3 separate regions of the Homo sapiens genome follow, and all the other regions are linked to region 1. The links come from fine-mapping of genetic effects on gene expression. A gene starts in region 1. Each other region holds a variant in brackets. All regions are shown on one strand. Distances are between the middles of the regions.

Evidence for each region. PIP is the estimated chance that this variant, and not a neighbour inherited with it, causes the effect.
Region 2: its variant is the best candidate, but not a certain one, in a credible set for the expression of KIAA1217 in aorta (GTEx, PIP 0.73).
Region 3: its variant is the best candidate, but not a certain one, in a credible set for the expression of KIAA1217 in T cells (GENCORD, PIP 0.53).

Annotation. Positions count from the first base shown.
Region 1 is chr10:24,205,627-24,212,824 of GRCh38, reverse strand. KIAA1217 reads right to left here and starts at 3,687. Exons shown (of 21, transcript NM_019590.5): 1 at 3,562-3,687. The coding sequence starts at 3,631. RefSeq lists enhancers at 2,869-2,928, 2,302-3,501 and a silencer at 3,219-3,268.
Region 2 is chr10:24,290,438-24,297,635 of GRCh38, reverse strand. The region is part of intron 2 of KIAA1217; the gene reads right to left. Among named protein-coding and RNA genes, the nearest start is that of MIR603, 18 kb to the right of the region's middle. RefSeq lists an enhancer at 4,065-5,264. The variant T/C (reference allele first, on the strand shown) is at 3,503.
Region 3 is chr10:23,853,764-23,860,961 of GRCh38, reverse strand. It overlaps a transcript of KIAA1217 not described here. Among named protein-coding and RNA genes, the nearest start is that of KIAA1217, 350 kb to the left of the region's middle. The variant C/T (reference allele first, on the strand shown) is at 3,955.

The sequences.
Region 1 (7,198 bases):
GAAATGCAAACGTGAATAAATAAAACATGGTCCTTGCTGTGGAATATCACATTGTCATTGGGTAAAACAGATACACAGGCAGACACAAGAGAGAATGCAATGATAGAAATGAACGTTATGGGTGATGTTAGCATCAGAGATGTTGCTCTCCCTTGCGGCACTCGTGCTCACCGGGAGAACTAAAAATGAAGCCATGCTTCTCTACAGCATCATATTCACCCAGAACTGAACAGGATTTTAAAAATCTAATTTGGATTTTTATTCCACTTTTGCTATTTTTTCCAGCCCTTCCTTCCAATCTCCCTGACCTCTAGATGCTGGACTGCCTCGGGGGGCATCCTTTGGACTTTTTCTTCTGCACACAGATTCAATCTTAGGGGATCTCTCAGTTCTCAGTCTTCCTTCAGCTCTAGTGATTAATATCCAAATTGTAGTCAACATCTCCACTTGGATACCTGATAAACTTCTCAATCCTAATCTATCAAAAGATTGCTCCTCAGAACCTCAAACCATAAACACCCTCTCATCTGTTCTTCGTAAATACTCCCCAACTTAGGCAAATGGCAACTCCGTTCTCCCAGCAGCTTACACCAAAATTTTGGAAGTTGTCTCTGACTCCTCTTTTTCTCTTACATCCCAAGTTGAATCCTTTAGCAATTGCTTTTGTCTTGTCTTGTTTGTCTTTTCTTTTTTCCTCTCCTCTCCTCCCCTCCTCTCTCTTCTTTTTTTTTCTTTTTTCTTTTTCCTTCCTTCTCTTTCTCTCTGTCTTTCTCTCTCTCTTTCTTTCAGAATCTTACACTGTTACCCAGGCTAGAGTGCAGTGGTGTAATCATGGCTAACTGCAGTCTCAACCTCCTGGCTGAAGTGATCCTCCTGCCTCAGCCTCCCAAGTAGCTGGGACTACAGGGCACTATGCCTAGCTAAATTTTTTTTTCTAGAGATGGGGTCTCACTATGCTGCCCAGGCTACAGGAAATGCTTTGGGCATTACCTTCAATATACACCTAGAATCTGCTGGCTTATCACCGCCTGCTAATCACCGCCTGGTCCAAGCTAGCCCTGGTTCTTGCCTCCTTGACTGCAGAAGCTTCCTAAAGGCCTCCCTGCCCTTCCCTCAACCCTACTTGGATTGTGCTCAATACAGCACCCAGTATTACCCCATTTAAAAAGACAAATCCCTTTGTAACTCACCTGGGCAACATAGCAAGACCCCTTCTCTAAAATAAAATAAAATACAATACAATACAATACAATACAATACAATACAATACAATACAATACAATACAATACAACCATGCATGGTGGCATGTCCCAGTAGTCCCAGCTATTTGGAAGCTAAGGCCAGAGGATTGCTTGAGCCCAAGAGTTCAAGGCTGCAGTGAGCTATGATCACACCACTGCACTCCAGTCTGGGTGACAAATGAGACCCTCTCTAAAAAAAAAAAAAAAAAAAAAAAAAAAAAGTAGTCCCACCTGCCAGGAGATTCCCACCTCTTTCAAAATAAAAGCTCTAGTCCTTACAATGGTTTCATGGGCCCTAGGTGATCTGGCCTGGGATTACCTCTCAATCTCTTTTCCTCCCATCCTTCTCCCATGTTCTTGCTGTTCTTTGAAAACATTACATCCCTGCTGTTACCTCTCCTGTCTTTGTTCAAATATCACTTCAGCGAAGCTCTTTCTAATAATCCTATTTACAGTTTCACTCCTTATTCCTTTTCCTGCTTTATTTTTCTCTGTAACCTTATTTCCATCAAATAGGGTTGCCAGATAAGATACAGGACTGCTCAGTTAAATGTGCACTTTACATAAATAATGGAGAAGTATTTTTAACATAAGTATATCCCAAATATGGCATGGGATATACTTATACTAAAAAAAAAAAAATTCACCGTTTACCTGAAATTCAAATTTAGCTGGGCCTCCTGTATTTTTATTTGCTAAATCCAGCAGCCGTGCCATCTAACATGCTATATATTTTATTTATTTGTTCATTGTCTGTCTCTACCAGCTCCCCACCCCCTGAAACTTGGTCCTTACACTGGAAGTTAAATGAAGGCAAGTATTTTTAGTCTGCTTTGTTCACCACTGGATGTCTGGCAGCTAAAACAGTGACGTCTACATAACAGATGCTCAATATTCACTGAATGAATGAATTAGTGAGCAAAGGAGCACACTGTCTCAGGCTGACCATCCTAGCCTCTGAAGCCTCTGAATTGCCCTGATTGTTGGAAAGTCATTTCTTAAATGGATCCCTTTCTAATGGCCCCTCTAGAATCTGAGTCATCTCTTTCAGGACAGGCCCAGAGGTTGAATTCCTGAAGTAGGATCCTGTCCTAGAAAATGGGGGTGGGGGGTTGCGGGGGTCAGGGGGACGAGGTAGCCTTATCTTCCACTGGATGCCACTGACCCCGGTAGCCTGAAGGAGAGTGCTGTGCTTTGGCAGCACGAAGGCAGACACTTCGACAGATGACTGTTCAGACTCAGGGATTCTCCAGCCATTACAAAACTTCAAGTTTTCTGCATTTCACTGGGGGATTTCTATCTCTTGTCATTGTAAGTTCTCCTGACTGGCTTAGCTTTGCATTTTCAGCGTGGATGAGTCATGTGTTACTTCCCTTTCACATTTTCATAAAACACACACCTTTTCCCCTGTGCATAATCCCTACTCCCACGCACAGCACTGCACTCCCGCACGTCTTTTTGTTGTGTACTGGCCCCTGCATGAACCTGAGGGAGGGTGGGGCGGGTGGTCCAGGGCTGTGTGGTTTATGAACATGCTGCCTATAGGATCCCACAGAATCAGCTCTTGGCATCACAGGCATCAGATGCCAGAGAGCAGGGACCTCCTCTGGCCACCCAACCCGGTGCGAAATTTCTTTGGAACAACATAAGCTTCTGGAAATTCCCTACGGAAAAGACAAGTCTATTATAAACACAATTAAAGGGAAACTGCCTGGAGAAAATTTACCAAAATTGTCCAACAACTCCCAAGTTTTGAATTAAAACATAAAAGAAGATCCAGAGTTCTATCTATCACCCAGATGCTCAAGCCCTCCCCTGCTGCTCGGATCTGTAAAATAAAACATGCCTGGTTTCTGTGATTTAACTCTAAAATTCTGCACAAACTTTGCAGCCAGCATGCATCTGCCACATGGAATCCCCCAACCAATGAATGGAAGCTGCGGTCCTAGAGACAGTTTCACAAAAACAGCTCCTTTCTCCCGTGGCTGGAGCCCCGGGGGGAAATGATTAAAAGCTGCTTAGTGATTTATTTGTCATTGCTTAGAGATACAGCTCATGCTGATGGCTCACTGCACTACAAATGTGACATCACCCCACCACCTCTTTTGCTGCTTAAGAAAATCGTGCCAGAGATAAAGTCAAGCCTAAGAAATCACAGTTCTCTATGCTCTACTCAGTTTGGAAAATGTACCATCCCAAGAAATTGCCTTTTTTTTTTTTTTCCTTTGCCGGGTCCCAGAGCTGCAGTTTATAAAAAGCAGCAAGCGGCAAGGGGCACGCGTCCCTGTAACTCCATCTTTGAATGGGTCTGTTACTTACCCTGCATCTGTCTTCTGTCTGCTGAGTAAGGAAGGCACGGCTCACATTTCTGGCTTTCATTTTCTTCCATTGTCTCTGCCTGCCGCAAAAGCTCCTCGCTCTCTGGAAACTTCAGAGCGCAGTTCTAAAAGCTCCCAGAAAGCGCCTGGGAGGGGGCCCGGGGCTGGGGAGGAGGGGACGGTGCGAAACCCCACCCCAAACTATTTTCCACTCCGGTGCAAAGTCTCCCTCGCCCGAGAAAACTGCATTCCAGCGCGGGGCCTCTTGGATCTCCCCTGCCCCTGGCCCTCCGTCCCTAGGTCTGTCCGTCCGTCCGTCCGTCCGTCCTCAGGCGCGCTCTCCGGGGACTGGGGGCTGGGCTCTGCCAGGGCAGGGCGATGCGGGGGTGTGGGGGGGAGGCCTCAACAGGTGACGGCCTCTCCTACCCACAACTGGGCCTGCCTGGTTCCACTGCTGCAAACCACCGAGGCTCTGCAGCCGAGGAAGGAAAACATTTCACACATGATTAAGGCCGAGAGCCTTCGCTGGGAGCCAGTGCCCTCATCTCTTTAATCTCAGAGGCAGAGTGAGCCTCCCAAATCGGGTGATCCACATATTAAAAAACAGCAACCTGTTGAACCTCCCAAATTTCAGTGAACTCCCTTAAAAAAAAATCCCAAACAATTTGAAAGAAAGAGTATATGCTGAGTGTTGTAAGTAAGCACTTTCCGGCACTAACTTTTTAGGGCCCGATTAACATCTATGAAGAGGTATAGCGTCATTTGCACACAGTCGATTTCAATCACTTAATCTGGACTTTTTAAAAAAAAGTTTCTACGTACTTGCTCACTTTCTCAGACTCCTCCCTCCCCCAACACACTTACACACACACACACACACACACACACACCCAGCCCTTAATCACAAATCTGAAAGGTAAACTAGTAAAGTCAATCTTCTGAAGCTCTCCCAGTTAACGACTCCAAAAATCTGAAAGACAGTGAAAATGCATTTCTTTGGACAGGCAGAGTTACAACCAACATACTTCTCCTTTTAAACCACCTACAAATATTTATTTTGTTCTTTACCCAGTCCTTGAAAAACTGGCAGAGTTCCCAGAGAGTGAAAATAGGAGGCATGATGTCCGAAAAAAAAAAAAAAAAGAGGATGGGAAAATAATTTAGGCAACATTAGCTCTGCGATGTCAGATATCTCAGAGTAACACAGTAGCTAGGAGGAAGAGCGCGATTTTGTAACCTGTAGTAGCCCCGTCACAGGAGGGGTAAAAAAGGACAATGGTTAGTCTGGTGACCATACTTTGCCCCAGTTTACAGGGCATTCCAGCAAGGTTTGAGATTGATTTAGATCAAGAATGTGTGCTGAACAATGGCCAGCCTATGTTCCAGATTGTGACCTCGAGTGACCTGTGTGTTTTGGCAGTGGGGGTGACGTATTTTGGCCATTTAAGACATAAGGATGTGGAAGCACCTAACAGACAAAGGATGTAGGCCAAAAGGAAAGGAGACATACCAGGAAGTGAGTTACACTCACGTCAGGAGGGGAAGAAGAGAGCCCCTCAATTCTTAACGGGATTTTTCTTGAAATCCAAGAAGACGCGGTGAATCTTTCAAAAAATTAAAGCAGTGCCTCGGCAGCCTGAATAGAGGCAGTGGGATTTGCAGGGCAGATAACTTAAGGTCTCTATGACTTTGCAACAGAATTACCTGGCAATCTTGCTTTAAGGAGGAACTAATCTTACACAGTTTCTGTCCTGGTGGCCCCTGGGCAAAGGCCAGATGAATCTAGTTTTAACCTTATTATTTCCTTAGGTGCAAAATGTTCATGAAGGAGGGCCCTGCTGTGTTCAGCCTTTCAGGTCCAGATCATCCTGATTCTTGTATACTGTTGTGTATTTGTCTTTAAAGTATTAATGCTAGGAAGAGTGGGGAGGAGGGTGGGAGAAAAGTATGTGTGTGTGTGTGTGTGTGTGTGTGTGTGTGTGAGAGAGAGAGAGAGAAACACTGTAGCAGGAGATGCAGCAGCCCAAATCAGATGTCCCGCAGCCTTTGGTTGTGACCCCAATCCCCTTGCTCTGGTGTCCAGAGAGCCCGTGCTTAACAGCTCCTACCTGTCATTTGGTGTAGCACAAAGGCAAAAACCCCAGGATGAAGGAGGCAGCAGAGGGCTGCCACAGCCGTTGGCAGCCACAAACAGCACCCTGCCCCAGGGCCCTCCTGGCTAGCTCAACCCAGGCAGAAAAGATCCATTGGCAGATGCTGATTAAGATTTCCTGGGGGCTGTTTGGAAGGTGTCAGAGCAGTCTTTCAGGCCTCTGTTGACCCCTAGATGGACAAAAATAGGGAAATGTCTCCCACCAGGTCTGAACTACCATTTTCCAGGCAGCCCAAGGAACCCCCTTGGTCAGCCGACCTTGCTTTCCAGCTGCTAGGACCCTCCCCTCCCCCATACGGGCCAAGCCCACTGCCCTCTCTGCTGATATTCCAGGAAACAAAACTCTGTGATATGCACAACAGAAAAAGGCATTGGGGGAAGAGAATTAACATGAATCATTAAGGATCATGAAACCTAGACATGTATTTATGGTAAAATAATGTTCTTTTGAATGATCAAACTTTCTGACCATTCTATAGGGAAAAGCTTCTATTGGATTACTTACTGGCCTTTTGTTCCTCCTTAAGAAGAGGAACTGAAAACAATTTGAGAAGGCACTCTATTTGCCCTTGCACCGACTATTCCATATCTTTCTCCAAAGCACAGAGACCTTCCTAACAATTTAGCACTGATTGTCAGTGTCTCTGGAAAACAGTAGCTGTATTCTGCAATCTATATAAACCTGGTAACTCCGATCTTCATGAAAATACTCTTATTGTCACTGCTGTTACTGTGGAGATGTTCTTCTTTCTGGAAGAAACACTATTTGAACTAGAAGTAGGTGTATTTCTTTCTGGTTTAATTTAATTTCTGGGCTTAAAAATTGCTATTACATTGCAATCTGCCTACTGCTATACTTTGAAATTTGCTGTGAAAGGCATAAGGAAAGCGGGAAGAACTTGAAATCTGATTTTCCTCCAGTCATATAAAGAACTAGAATAATAATAATACCAGGAGGCTAAGTTTTCAACTCCGTTTCTGTTAACAGGGAAAGGTGCAAGACTATTTCTTGGTTAGTGGTTCCATATGTTGCAATTCATGACTCAAAATGAGCTACCACATAAAACAAATGTCATTTAAAAGGAAAGACAAGTGACGAGATAAAAGAGTGCTGTAAAGACAAATGGTGATTTTGCAGTCATAGCTAACCCGTTACAGAACTGGACCATTATTGGTGTTGATAACGCAACGTAAATGGCATTCACCATAAAGAGAATTAATCACAAAAATCGTAAACAATTGCATATGATTTCTCAGCAGGCCAATTATAGGGTTGTGGAAAGCATGTCAACTTCCTTCATGTAAATTTTTCCTTTTTTCCTTCTTTCCTTTTTTTTTTTGAGACAGCATCTTGCTCTGTCACCCAGGCTGGAGTGCAGTGGCATGATCTCGGCTCACTGCAACCTCCACCTTCTGGGTTCAGGTGATTCTCCTGCCTCAGCCTCCCAAGTAGCTGGGACTACAGGCACATGCCACCACGCCCAGC
Region 2 (7,198 bases), 85 kb before region 1:
TACAGGCATGGGCCACTACACCCAGCTAATTTTTATATTTTTAGTAGAGATGGGGTTTTACCATCTTGGCCAGTATGATCTTGAACTCCTGACCTGACCTCAGGTGATCCGCCTGCCTTGGCCTCCCAAAGTGCTGGGATTACAGGCATGAGACACTGCACCCAGTCTAAAGACTCCAGTTTCTTTATGATCATTGAGATGGGGACTGAGCAACTGGCACCTTCCCTGTCTGTCCATCAAGGGGCATGTGCTGGATGTGTGTGGATGCTACTTCCATTAGGCAAACTCATGGTAGTTACTTACGTCACACTGAGGAGAAACAGACCACTAAGCATGCAATTATTAAACACAAATGTAGTCAGTGGATCTGTTTCCTTAACAGAACATGGCCCTGCTGCATTGTACCCTTCAACCAACTGCTCCAATTATTGTGACAAACAAAAGTAGCCCCCAAAATTTTCACAATATGCCATAGTGGGTGGTCCTTTTGCCTGGTTTTAGCTGTAGAGAGATAATCTTCCTTACTTTATATGTTTCTCCCCATTCTTGTTTTATTCCTAGACAGCTAACAAGCCTTTAATATCAAATTCTTTTGCATTTTGAAAATCCCAGTGTATTACAGTCTCATGTCCTTCTGTGGTTGGTATCAAGTAAGTGAGAGTTGGAATACTCAGCTTTTGACAGCGACAGAGACCATCCTCCTGTAGTTGCCACGTACTTGGTCCTGAAGATCACAGCTGATAAGATTATAAAACTATACACGTGTAGAGTGCTTATTTTTAGATGCTAGCAATTTCTTTTTTTGCACATAATCTGTATTTAGCCCCAATTAGCAAGCTTTCTCTCTATCCTTCTTCGCGAAGGCCAAACACTACCCAGTGAGGGTACACAAAAAATGAAAGAAAGAAAAACTATCAAAGGTGATCTGAAATAACAAATCCAAGATTTTAAAAGAAGAAAAGGGTTTCCACGTTTTTAAGACTCAAAATGGTCATAGGAAAATGGTACATGTTGGGTTACGTTTTCTATGTTTGAGTAATTATGAGGTAACCTCCCTCTAAGTCAATGAGAAGAAACTCAGCTTTTAATGTGATTTATTCATTAGTTGTTCAATAGCTATCCAGGGAGTCTCTGCTTTATACAAGGTTCTGTGCAATGTACAAAGCCAGAACTCCCAACTCAGCTGCATTGGAATCACCTGGAGACCCCTTGTTAAAATGTGGATCCTGGCCGGGCATAGTGATTCACTCCTGTAATTCCAGCACTTTGGAAAGCCTAGGCGGGAGGACTGCTTGAGAGGCCAGGAGTTTGAGACCAACCAGCCTTGGCAACATGGAGACACCTCTCTACAAAAAAACTTAAAAATTAACTGGGTTTGATGATGTGCACCTGTAAGGCCAACTATTCAGGAGGCTGAGGGGAGAAGATCGCTTGAGCCCAGGAGGTCAAGGCTGCAGTGAGCAATGATTGTGCCACTGCACTCCAGCCTGGGCAACAGAGTGGGCCCCTGTCTCCAAAAAGAAAAAAGAAAAAAAATGTGAATTCTGATCCCACATATCTGAGATGGGGGCTGACAGTCTGCTTTTTGAGCAAGCTCACAGGTGACACCCTTACTGCTGGCCAGCAGAGGACATTTTAAGTACTAAGGCACATTAAAGAATAAAATAATTAAACATGGACCCTGCCTTCAAAGAACTTACAATTTGCATAAGGAGATATACGTTTTTCCAAATCAAACAGAAGAGCCATGTGCCATAAGAGCGATACAACAGGTCAAAGAATTAATTACTCCTGGCTCAGGAGTGGTAGCATGTCTGGGATGAAGAAGGTGGCATTTAGGTTGATTTCTTAGTGAAGGAAGGATTGGTAGCAATAGGGAGGTATAGAAGGGAGAGGATGCCCGGCAGAGGGACCAGTGTCAACAAAGAGACCCTTCACCCTCAGATGAAGAGGGAGAAGTTCCACCAGGAGGGAATGCCTGTTGGAGGTGTGGATAAAATGGTGAAACAGGGGCCTGAGAAATTGGCCTGAGAACAACTGGGGAAGCACCCGGGACACAAATCAAGAAGTCTAGAACTGAGCTTTATGACAACTGTCCTCAGAGCAGTGGGAGAAACAAACAAAGGGGCGGAGGAAAGGAAATTGAGGCTGAAAGACCAGTGAAGGGGCTCCTGAAATAGTCCAGAAGAAATAAATCCTAAAGTAGACACAGTCATAAATCTTTGATAAGAAACGAAAATGCTGAACTATTTATATCTGAGTTTCCCATATTGGATCTTACTTGAATAATGATCCATCTTTTCCTCATCTGACAAGCAGTTACCAGCATTTCTTTAAGGGTTAGAGAAAGATATATTAATTAAAAGTTGTAAGATGATGTTCTTGGAATGCTCACTCCTGGATTATGCTGGAAATAACTAAGAGATGCTATAATTATTTTAAGAGACTTAAGATATAAGTTCTCTATTAACAAATAGTGTCCCACCTAACACAAAATACTCAGTCATTTTTCATTCTCAGAAGAGGAGGTCTTAGCCTCACTGACCATATTTCTCCTTACTTCAATGCCCAATACTATGTTGGTTTTAGGTCAGCCCAGAAGAGAGACATTTCTAGTATTTCCAGAGAAAAGCATCTGGTTTTGAAATATAGTGAGAGGGGCCGCCTCCAGAATAGTAGTTTACAGAGTGGGAGAATGCAAGGTATTCCACAGTAGAAAATATTGTCATTTTAAATTCTCCAATTCCCAGACTTTCAGGCAGGGTATGTGTGATTTGACACCCTGGCAATGTGGACAGTGACCGAATTGCACTTGCCTTTCAGGTCCTAGAGTTTCAGACCCCTGACTCCTTTCCTGTCCCTGTAGGAGACATCAGAAGTCTCTGAAGTATGCAGAAGACTAAATGGAGATCTTAAAGTTTCCACGTTCCTTTCTAAATCCTAATTAAATGAAAACTTTTCTAAGGAAAAAGCTTGCTCTGAAGCAGTTGGTTGAAGTGTACAGTGGAGCAGAACCATGTTCTGTTAAGGAAACAGATCCACTGACTACGCTGGTGTTTACTAAATGCATACACGGTGGTCTATTTCCTCCTCAGTGTGAACGTAGCTAACTGCCATTAACTTGCCTAATGAAAGTAGCATCCACACACATCAAACACATGCCCCTCAATGGACAGACAGGGAAGGTGCCAGTTGTTCAATCCCTGTCTTGATGATCATAAAGAAACTGGAGTCTGTAAACCACTACCTGTTGAAAGAATTAGATGTCTGGGTAGGCAATCACATCGATAATTTAAACTGTGAGAAGCTAGTAGGGGAAAAGAGTGAAATGTACATGAAATGGGACAGAACTGCCTGAACCAAGCAGGCAAATGTAGAGCCCCAAGGTGGCCAGTCCACTCCACGTGGAAAGGAACTATTTCTTTTTTTTTTTTTTTTTTTTTTTTTTGAGACGGAGTCTCGCTCTGTCACCCAGGCTGGAGTGCAGTGGCGCTATCTCGGC[T/C]CACTGCAAGCTCCGCCTCCCAGGTTCATGCCATTCGCCTCAGCCTCCCCAGTAGCTGGGACTACAGGCGCCTGCCACCACGCCCGGCTATTTTTTCTATTTTTATTAGAGACGGTGTTTCCCCGTCTTAGCCAGGATGGTCTCCATCTCCTGACCTCGTGATCCGCCCGCCTTGGCCTCCCAAAGTGCTGGGATTCCAGGCGTGAGCCACCGCACCCGGCCAGGAACTATTTCAAAGACGTCGGTCGGAGACCTTCATGCCAGGACACCAGCAAGCTGGCAAAACAGATCTTGCAAAGGGTTTCTGCACTCTATCTGTGAGCTTCATTAATAGGCACTCAGGACTGAGAACCTTCATGTCAGCTGTGACAAGTGAATAGTCAGTAGAGAGAAGCTATTAATTTAAGACACCGTTGATAATGCAGTCTACCTTAAGAACAGGCAACAAGGGGCTTCAGATGCTGAAGCACAGACACAAGACATCCTGGAACTCCAAGTCCAAAGGGGAATGCTCAGGGCAGATATCAACAATGAAACCTTTTAAGCTGAGTCACTCTCAGCCTGACGGCTGCCAAGCCCAACAGCCATCCCTGGTTACAAGCTAGAGGAAAAGTCCCTGAGCATATCTGTTGTTTCCTGTGTGTAAAGATGCTAAATGCCAGGTGCTTTCCTCTAGAGTGGAAGGGCCGGGGCGGGGCAGTGCCTGCAGAGGCAGCAAGGTCAAGAGAGTTCATTTGGTTATTGCCATTAAAAAAGACTTCCCAGCCAGGCGCGGTGGCTCACGCCTGTAATCCCAGCACTTTGGGAGGCCGACGCTGGCAGATCACTTGAGGTCAGGAGTTCAAGACCAGGCTGGCCAATGTGGTGAAATCCTGTCTCTACTAAAAACAAAAACAAACAAAACAAACAACAACAACAACAAAATTAGCCGGGCATGGTGGCACATGCCTATAATCCCAGCTACTCGGGAGGCTGAGGCAAAATAACTGCTTGAACCCAGGAGGCAGAGGTTGCAGCCAGCCAAGATTACGCCACTGTACTCCTGGCTGGGCGACAGAGGGAGAGTCTGTCTCAGAAACAAAACAAAACAAAAACAAAAAACAACTTCCCGAGCATGCATTTTGGGTGCATCTTGAAGTGCAGCTTGTAGCATGTAGAAATTGGCCTTCTGGTTCACAGAGTGCTGCAAGTGAAGTACTAGATGTCTGCGTATTTCCAGATATACTCAGATCATATTTCAGGCCACCTTTCTTCTTTTTTTTTTCTAATCCAGGATGCGCTCAGGATTCCCTCTCCACTCACCATGAAGAACTTCAAGTAGCGGCCACACTTTGCAGTGCCTCTCACTCAGGCTGCGATATCCTAAGCGTTTACCTTCATTCCGTGGAAACTCTTGAAACAGCCCATGTCAATCATGACTCAGCAGTTTTTCCTTACCATGAAAACAGCAGAGCAATGGGTTTCTCCATTTTTAGAGTTAATGCATTAGCTATAAATGTAATTCCATAGTAGATATGAAGTGCAACAAAAAAAAGTCTGGGACAAATTCTGCCACTTTTCAGAGGGTAACAGGAGATGGTTGACTCAAGATGGAATGTAAGAACCCTCATGGCCTCCCTACCCTTCTCTTTAACCTCTTCATGGTTGTGCAGAATAAACCTCTAATACTTCTGATGAGTGAGGCAAATGGCCTTCCTGTAAAGGCAGAACCCCAAGAATTTTCAAGAAAGTTTGTGTGGCCAGCCTGAGGTTCCAGGGAAGAGGAATGGGTATTTGGAATAGAGAAATACAGTGGTTAATTCTGAGCTCCAAGTTATTGGTCCAAATTGGTCTACTTCAATTCCTTGGTCAGTCTTTTGGAGTTTTCCATCAGTTAAACAATGTCCACGGTAAACTGCCATGACCACTTAACCTCAACTGCAAACTACATCCACTTAATCCTCTGGGGTCCCTTTTTATTCATAATAAATCCAGAAAAATCTTGTATTGTGTTTTATTTCCTCAATCATATCTCCTTTAATTCTCCAACAAGCCTTTCCTGATTAGAAAAGCCAGAAAACTCATCCAAATATCTCTGTTGAAGAGCTGGACAAAGTTTTCAAGTATTATTGAATTTTTAATCCACTAAACAAAAATCCTCCAATGTTGTTCCATTTTATTTCAGGGTCTAGTTTCTCTATGCAACTGCAAGGGTAGGGGCCACCTATTTATTTTTATTTACAGACCCATGTGTATATGGGAGAATTTAACATATACAAAAGGAACCCAAATTTTTTAGTCTTAGACTTTCAGGATTCCCTGTATTTAAATAATAGCTATTGATCTAAAAAATCTGCAAGAGAAATGTAATCCTTAGATTTTTTTTTTCTCCACATCGGAGTAGTAAAGCAAAATGAAATGGGTGAATGCTGTTTGTCAACTCTATGGTGGTATAAAAAAATGGTGTAGTGTGACCAAAAGCATACTTCTGATGAAAGCCCACTACCGGACAGGACACAACCTATAAGTTACTGTCCCCACAGACTGCCTTACAAGTGTCCTCACGCTCCAAAGAGGACTGGGAGAGGTAGAAGTGAAATGATTGAGTGAAGTTTTCTTTTTCTGAGATGGAGTGTCACTCTTGTTGCCCAAGCTGGAGTGCAATGGTGCGATCTTGACTCACTAGAACCTCCGCCTCCCAGGTTCAAGTGATTCTCTTGCTTCAGCCACCCTAATAGCTGGGATTTCAGGCACCTGCCACCATGCCTGGCTACTTTTTTGTATTTTTAGTGGAGACAGGGTTTTACCATGTTGGCCAGGCTGGTCTGGAATTCCTGACCTCAGGTGATCCGCCCGCCTCAGCCTCTCAAAGTGCTGGGACTACAGGCGTGAGCCACCATGCCCAGCCGATTGAGTGAAATTTTCTAAGATAATTGTTGGTCATATCCCACAGGGGACTGGGCTCTAGGATAGCCCATGCTTATATGGGAAGAAAAGTTATCGTGGGTCTTTGTTGTCCACAAGACAACCTCAGGGATCTCTTCCTATCCCAACAACCTCTGTCTATGTCAACAACCACTGTGGTCAACAAGAAGGAGGAAGCATTCCAAAACTTATTCACACAGAACAACTCAAATATAGATGATGGAGGAAAAACAAACTTTGAAAAGAGGGCACAATTTGCCATTCCCACTGGATGTATTTTAAACAACCCCCTGCCCCACACAATAAAAGGTCTTAAGAGAGACTTCATGGCCAGGCACGGTGGATCATGCCTGTAATCCCAGCACTTTGGGAGGCCGAGGCAGGTGGAGCACCTGAGGTCAGGAGTTTGAGACCAGCCTAGCCAACATGGTGAAACCCTGTCTCACTAAAATTACAAAAATTAGCCAGGCATGGTGGTGGGCACCTGTAACCCCAGCTACTTGGGAGGCTGAGGCAGGAGAATCGCTTGAATCTGGGGGTGGAGGTCGCAGTGAGCCGAGATCACACCACTACACTCCAGCCTGGGTGACAGAGCAAGACTCCGTCTGAAAAAAAAAAAAAAGAGAGACATCTGTTTATATTATGCTTTGTTGAAACTCTCTTCCTGTTGCATTATTGTGATAAGGTGAAAGTTAGCAAAAAAGAAAGAACTTTTTTTTTTTTACACTCATACAACCTCACCTGAGAGATGAATGACAGGTAATGTTTGCAGATACAATTTTCAGTAAACTT
Region 3 (7,198 bases), 350 kb after region 1:
AGCCTGGGTAACAGAGCAAGATTCCATCTCAAAAAAAGAAAAGAAAAAAATAAAAGAAAGAAAACAAAAGAAGGAAAGAAAAAGAGAGGAGAAAAGATGAGAAAACAAAATAGAAAAAAAGAAAAATAAAGAGTCAGGATCTCTGTATAACACAGGAATGGAGAGCACTTTCCCAGAAAAAAAAATACACAAGAACATTTTTAAAAAATTTAATGTTTCATGACTTTTATGTTGCCCATAGCAGGTTAAAAGCAAACCTTAATAACAGTTAACATCATCTTTATGATTATCTCTACAACAATTCCTTTATTATTAATGTAGTAGTAATGTATTTGCTTTTTTAAAACTGCATATCTGAATTGTTTACACATAAAGGAAGAAAGAAATGAGTTAGAATAACAATTCCTAACTCCAAAGTCTGTTTTTTAACCTATTTATTTTAAAATATATGTTCTGACATGTAAACATTTCATTACAATGTATAATATTGTCATTAAATTATATACCTTTTACATGGGGCAAGGGAATCTTGTCAGCTCTGATGGGAGTTACATAATGGAAATCATACTACACAGAAGACCAAAGTGAAATGGAATAGTTTCCAAGTAGGTTAGAAGCAAGGAGTAATGACGTTAAATTATCACCTAGGAAACCAGAGGTATAAATTTGTAAAGATTTTGCCATTAAGGTCAGTTAGAGTTTAGCGTCAAGATAAAAAAAAAAATGTGCATTTACCTCAGCTGCATTAAGGAAGATAAAGTCACAAAGACCAGCACAAGAAGGCAAGGAGAGCCCTGCCCAGAGCTGCTCATGAGGCCCAATCCTGTAGCTGCTCCCTGCTCTGAAGAGGAGGCCATGGAAATCAGAACGTACGAGGGGCAGGACTAGCTTGGGCACATCAATATTCCTGCTCGCTCTCAGCCCTCCTATACATAGACAAGTGACTATGTCAGCATTGTTGCTGCAAATGCCATTACTCAAATGAGCATATGACAAGGAGTGCATACACCTTTGAAAGTCTACATGATATTCTAATACCAAAAGGCAAGTCTTACAGGTCTGTGACTCTGAGTAATTGTTTTTTGTATTGGCTGCCAAGAAAAAAAAAAAAGAGGGATCACAGCAAAGTCATTTTAGACATTTGAGTCTAAACACAGTGACACTTTAATGAGGCTAATAAACTCATCTCTAAAAATGTTGTAAGTTTCTATACTTAGAAATTTTGCTAAAAGCATATGACCTTTTCTAAAGTACACATTGATTTATTCTTTGTGTAGAAACCTTTGCAACATGCCATGGCCAAAAGTAACAAAGTTCGTATTTAAATGTGAAATATTGAAGAACAACTGTTTACATGTGGATGAATCCCATATGTCACTACAGCCATAGTCTGACTATTGTAGATAGTGGTAATCCCTTGGGTGTCCCTAGAGCAAGGAATGCTTCAAGACATGTGATTAGTAGAAGGTTGTGCCATTATTTTGCAAAATATGACACCAAATATATTTTTATTTCAACCTAGATTAGAAAATAAATCAACCAATCAACAATGACAATTCCATTCAAGTTACCATTATCATTACATATAGAGAGTTTAGTGCCTATTGTTGGAAGTTGTAGGTTGCAGCAATTCTCAATCAAAGTCAATGCCAAAGGGCAAAGAGATCCCAGAAGCACTTAATATTAAGGCTGGAAAGGATCTTAGAGACTGTGTAGTCCAGAGGTTCCCAATCCACAGGCTTTAGGTCCATAACAAAGAAACCACCAATCTATAAATGTAACAAGTTTCACATGTTATACATATACATATGTATACACCCACACATATACAAAGACATATACATATATGGGTTCACACACACATTACATGTGGAATTATAGTATATTGAAATCATTTGTGTTTCTCCTTTCCAAGACGGTAGTCAGGGTCTTTGTGCTCCACTGGCTTAGAATAAGTTTAAATTTCTTCCTGCATTTTATCTTCTGAAACTCTAAACCCCTTGGAGAAATTAAGTTACGAGGGAGGAAAGAGAAGTGGTAGCTTTATATCTAAGTAAGGACGATTTTGAGATTGTACAGTAGACTGGAAGAGCAATAGAATCATAAGATGGAGAGTTTTCTACTATGTCTCTTAAGTCTTGGCAGGTGACACCTACAACCAGGTCTTTTAGACTTGAAAGGGCACCACGCCCAGAGAACCAGCAGATGAGGCAACTGTAAAAGGACCGAGTGGTGGGGGACAATGAGTATTTCAGTGGCAATCAGTGAGGGTTGAAGACTGGAGGGATCCTAGGACTGATGGGGAGCCCGATTATGACTGAAATTAGACTTATGATTATACTAACAGAATCATTTTTATGATATTCAGAGTCAGATTCAAGTTGTTTTTTTCAAAAAGCAAGAATTCAAGCAATGATACTGATATCTGCTATAGACATGTGTATACAACTGCTCTAAAGATGTGTGTGTATATTTATATGTATGTATATACACACACACATATGTTTGTGTGTATATATATATATACAGCATATATATATGCTGTTGTGGTGAATAAAAGGAAATATAATTTTAAAAAGTTCTAAGTTTATAGTTCTTTAGGTATCATCAATTTTTAAATCAGTGAACACTAAAATTACAACTGTCATCATGCTGGGTTCCTCACGACTATGCTGAAATGATGACACAGCAAGGCACATTCTCAGGCTAAATTGAAAATCACTGCTCTTCCCCATCCAGCTCATTTTTCAGGAGAAGAAACTGAGACCTGGCAGGATTAAGTCAGAGCCCAGAGAAGAGCCAAGGAAAGAAGATCCGGCCTTGGCTCCCGTTTCTTGAGTGGTCACAGTTGTCCTTTCCTGGCCCTCTTTCCTGCTGTATTCTAGAGAAATTACCAAGTAGCACAACTTTGTTCTTCCTCCCCTTCCATATCTGATCCTCTTGGCCTGTCTCCCAGCTGCTGTCTCCTACTTGAAGTCTCTGGCCCACCCCTCTTTTTTTTTTTTAACCAGATTGAAATATTTAAATGTTTTTGACATATAACTTAATAAAATGGCATTTTCACTGTTTCTAACTATTAAATTAGAAGGAATTTCAACCATATCTATAGTTTCCTCTATAAATACATACATATATATGAACATACATTCATCCATAAATCTAAATAGCTATCTCCTTCTAATATATTATAGCTGATTCTTTGTAAAGTTCTCAAGAAAAGATTCCCCACTCCTCTAAAGGTTGAGAGATGTCACTCCACTCACAGAAATTCTTAGAGGCAATGTGGTTTCCTAACTAGCTATGCATCAAAAGCGTGCAAACCGTTTATTATAAAATGCAAATTCCTGGGCCCCGACCCTAGACCTTCTGATTTAATACCTTTAACATGGACCTGTCATTCTCCAGATGATTGTGATATAGAGACAGGCTTGAAGACCTCACCTCTGAGGCACAAGGGCATGAATACATTTACAAAGGTGTTTTAATTACAGCTAGAGATCATCATTATTAATGACAGGGCCTGCTTTCAGAAAATCCTTTCCTTAATTGACCATTTTATTCTCATTCCTTCCTATTTATGGTCTCCTATTTCGTCCTGTCCTTTTTCTCTCTAATGAACAAAGTGAACTTATCAGCACTATTTGAAAAGATGCTCAGAAGAGGTGACAAAAAAATCCCTCATAGTCTGAGGAATAAGATGTTCTGACCCCTGAAGTCTATCTCAAGTCAGTATCGTATGGGGAGTGATATGGTTTGGATTCACATCCCTACCCAAATTTCATATAAAATTGTAATCCCTGAGAGAGCGCCAAGATGGCCGAATAGGAACAGCTCCAGTCTACAGCTCCCAGCCTGAGCGACACAGAAGACGGGTGATTTCTGCATTTCCATCTGAGGTACCGGGTTCATCTCACTAGGGAGTGCCAGACAGTGGGTGCAGGACAGTGGGTGCAG[C/T]GCACCATGTGCGAGCCAAAGCAGGGCGAGGCATTGCCTCACTTGGGAAGCGCAAGGGGTCAGGGAGTTCCCTTTCCTAGTCAAAGAAAGGGGTGACAGACAGCACCTGGAAAATCGGGTCACTCCCACCCTAATACTGCGCTTTTCCGATGGGCTTAAAAAAAGGCGCACCAGGAGATTATATCCCGCACATGGCTGGCAGTGTCCTACGCCCACAGAATCTCGCTGATTGCTAGCACAGCAGTCTGAGATCAAACTGCAAGGCAGCAGCGAGGCTGGGGGAGGGGCGCCTGCCATTGCCCAGGTTTGCTTAGGTAAACAAAGCAGTGGGGAAGCTCGAACTGGGTGGTGCCCACCACAGCTCAAGGAGGCCTGCCTGCCTCTGTAGGCTCCACCTCTGGGCACAGGTCACAGACAAACAAAAAGACAGCAGTAACCTCTGCAGACTTAAATGTCCCTGACAGCTTTGAAGAGAGCAGTGGTTCTCCCAGCACGCAGCTGGAGATCTGAGAACCGGCAGACTGCCTCCTCAAGTGGGTCCCTGACCCCTGACCCCCGAGCAGCCTAACTGGGAGGCACCCTCCAGTAGGGGCAGACTGACACCTCACACAGACGGGTACTCTTCTGAGACAAAACTTCCAGAGGAACGATCAGACAGCAGCATTCGCGGTTCACGAAAATCCGCTGTTCTGCAGCCACTGCTGCTGATACCCAGGCAAACAGGGTCTGGAGTGGACCTCTAGCAAACTCCAACAGACCTGCAGCTGAGGGTCCTGTCTGTTAGAAGGAAAACTAACAAACAGAAAGGACATCCGCACCAAAAACCCATCTGTACATCACCATCATCAAAGACCAAAAGCAGATAAAACCACATAGATGGGGAAAAAACAGAGCAGAAAAACTGGAAACTCTAAAAAGCAGAGTGCCTCTCCTCCTCCAAAGGAACGCAGTTCCTTACCAGCAACAGAACAAAGCTGGACGGAGAATGACTTTCACGAGTTGAGAGAAGAATGCTTCAGACGATCAAACTACTCCGAGCTACAGGAGAAAATTCAAACCAAAGGCAAAGAAGTTAAAAACTTTGAAAAAAATTTAGACAAATGTATAACTAGAATAACCAATCAGAGAAGTGCTTAAAGGAGCTGATGGAGCCGAAAGCCAAGGCTTGAGAACTACATGAAGAATGCAGAAGCCTCAGGAGCCGATGCGATCAACTGGAAGAAAGGGTATCAGTGATGGAAGATGAAATGAATGAAATGAAGCGAGAAGGAAAGTTTAGAGAAAAAAGAATAAAAAGAAACAAACAAAGCCTCCAAGAAATATGGGACTACATGAAAAGACGAAATCTACGTCTGATTGGTGTACCTGAAAGTGACGGGGAGAATGGAACCAAGTTGGAAAACACTCTGCAGGATATTATCCAGAACTTCCCCAATCTAGCAAGGCAGGCCAACATTCAGATTCAGGAAATACAGAGAATGCCGCAAAGATACTCCTCGAGAAGAGCAACCCCAAGACACATAATTGTCAGATTCACCAAAGTTGAAATGAAGGAAAAAATGTTAAGGGCAGCCAGACAGAAAGGTCGGGTTACCCACAAAGGGAATCCCATCAGACTAACAGCGGATCTCTCAGCAGAAACTCTACAAGCCAGAAGAGAGTAGGGGCCAATATTCAACATTCTTAAAGAAAAGAATTTTCAACCCAGAATTTCATATCCACCCAAACTAAGCTTCATAAGTAAAGAAGAAATAAAATACTTTACAGACAAGCAAATGCTGAGAGATTTTGTCACCAACAGGCCTGCCCTAAAAGAGCTCCTGAAGGAAACACTAAACATGGAAAGGAACAACCGGTACCAGCCACTGTGAAATCATGCCAAATTGTAAAGACCATCGAGGCTAGGAAGAAACTGCATCAACTAACGAGCAAAATAACCAGCTAACATCATAATGACAGGATCAAATTCACACATAACAATATTAACTTTAAATGTAAATGGACTAAATGCTCCAATTAAAAGACACAGACTGGCAAATTGGACAAAGAGTCAAGACCCATCAGTGTGCTGTATTCAGGAAACCTATCTCATGTGCAGAGACACACATAGGCTCAAAATAAAAGGATGGAGGAAGATCTACCAAGCAAATGGAAAACAAAAAAAGGCAGGGGTTGCAATCCTAGACTCTGATAAAACAGACTTTAAACCAACAAAGATCAAAAGAGACAAAGAAGGCCATTACATAATGGTAAAGGGACCAATTCAACAAGAAGAGCTAACTATCCTAAATATATATGCACCCAATACAAGAGCACTCAGATTCATAAAGCAAGTCCTGAGTGAACTACAAAGAGACTTAGACTCCCACACGATAATAATGGGAGACTTTAACACCCCACTGTCAAAATTAGACAGATCAACGAGACAGAAAGTTAACAAGGATACCCAGGAATTGAACTCAGCTCTGCACCAAGCGGATCTAATAGACATCTACAGAACTCTCCACCCCACATCAACAGAATATACATTTTTTTCAGCACCACACCACACCTACTCCAAAATTGACCACATAGTTGGAAGTAAAGCACTCCTCAGAAAATGTAAAAGAACAGAAATTATAACAAACTGTCTCTCAGACCACAGTGCAATCAAACTAGAACTTAGGATTAAGAAACTCACTCAAAACCACTCAACTACATGGAAACTGAACAACCTGCTCCTGAATGACTACTGGGTACATAATGATATGAAGGCAGACATATAGATGTTCTTTGAAACCAACGAGAACAAAGACACAACATATCAGAATCTCTGGGACACATTCAAAGCAGCATGTAGAGGGAAACTTATAGCACTAAATGCCCACAAGAGAAAGCAGGAAAGATCCAAAATTGACACCCTAACATCACAATTAAAAGAACTAGAAAAGCAAGAGCAAACACATTCAAAAGCTAGCAGAAGGCAAGAAATAACTAAAATCAGAGCAGAACTGAAGGAAATAGAGACACAAAAATCCTTCAAAAAATTAATGAATCCAGGAGCTGGTTTTTTGAAAGGATCAACAAAATTGATAGACTGCTAGCAAGACTAATAAAGAAGAAAAGAGAGAAGAATCAAATAGATGCAATAAAAAATGATAAAGGGGATATCACCACCAATCCCACAGAAATACAAACTACCATCAGAGAATGCTATAAACACCTCTACGCAAATAAACTAAAAAATCTAGAAGAAATGGATAAA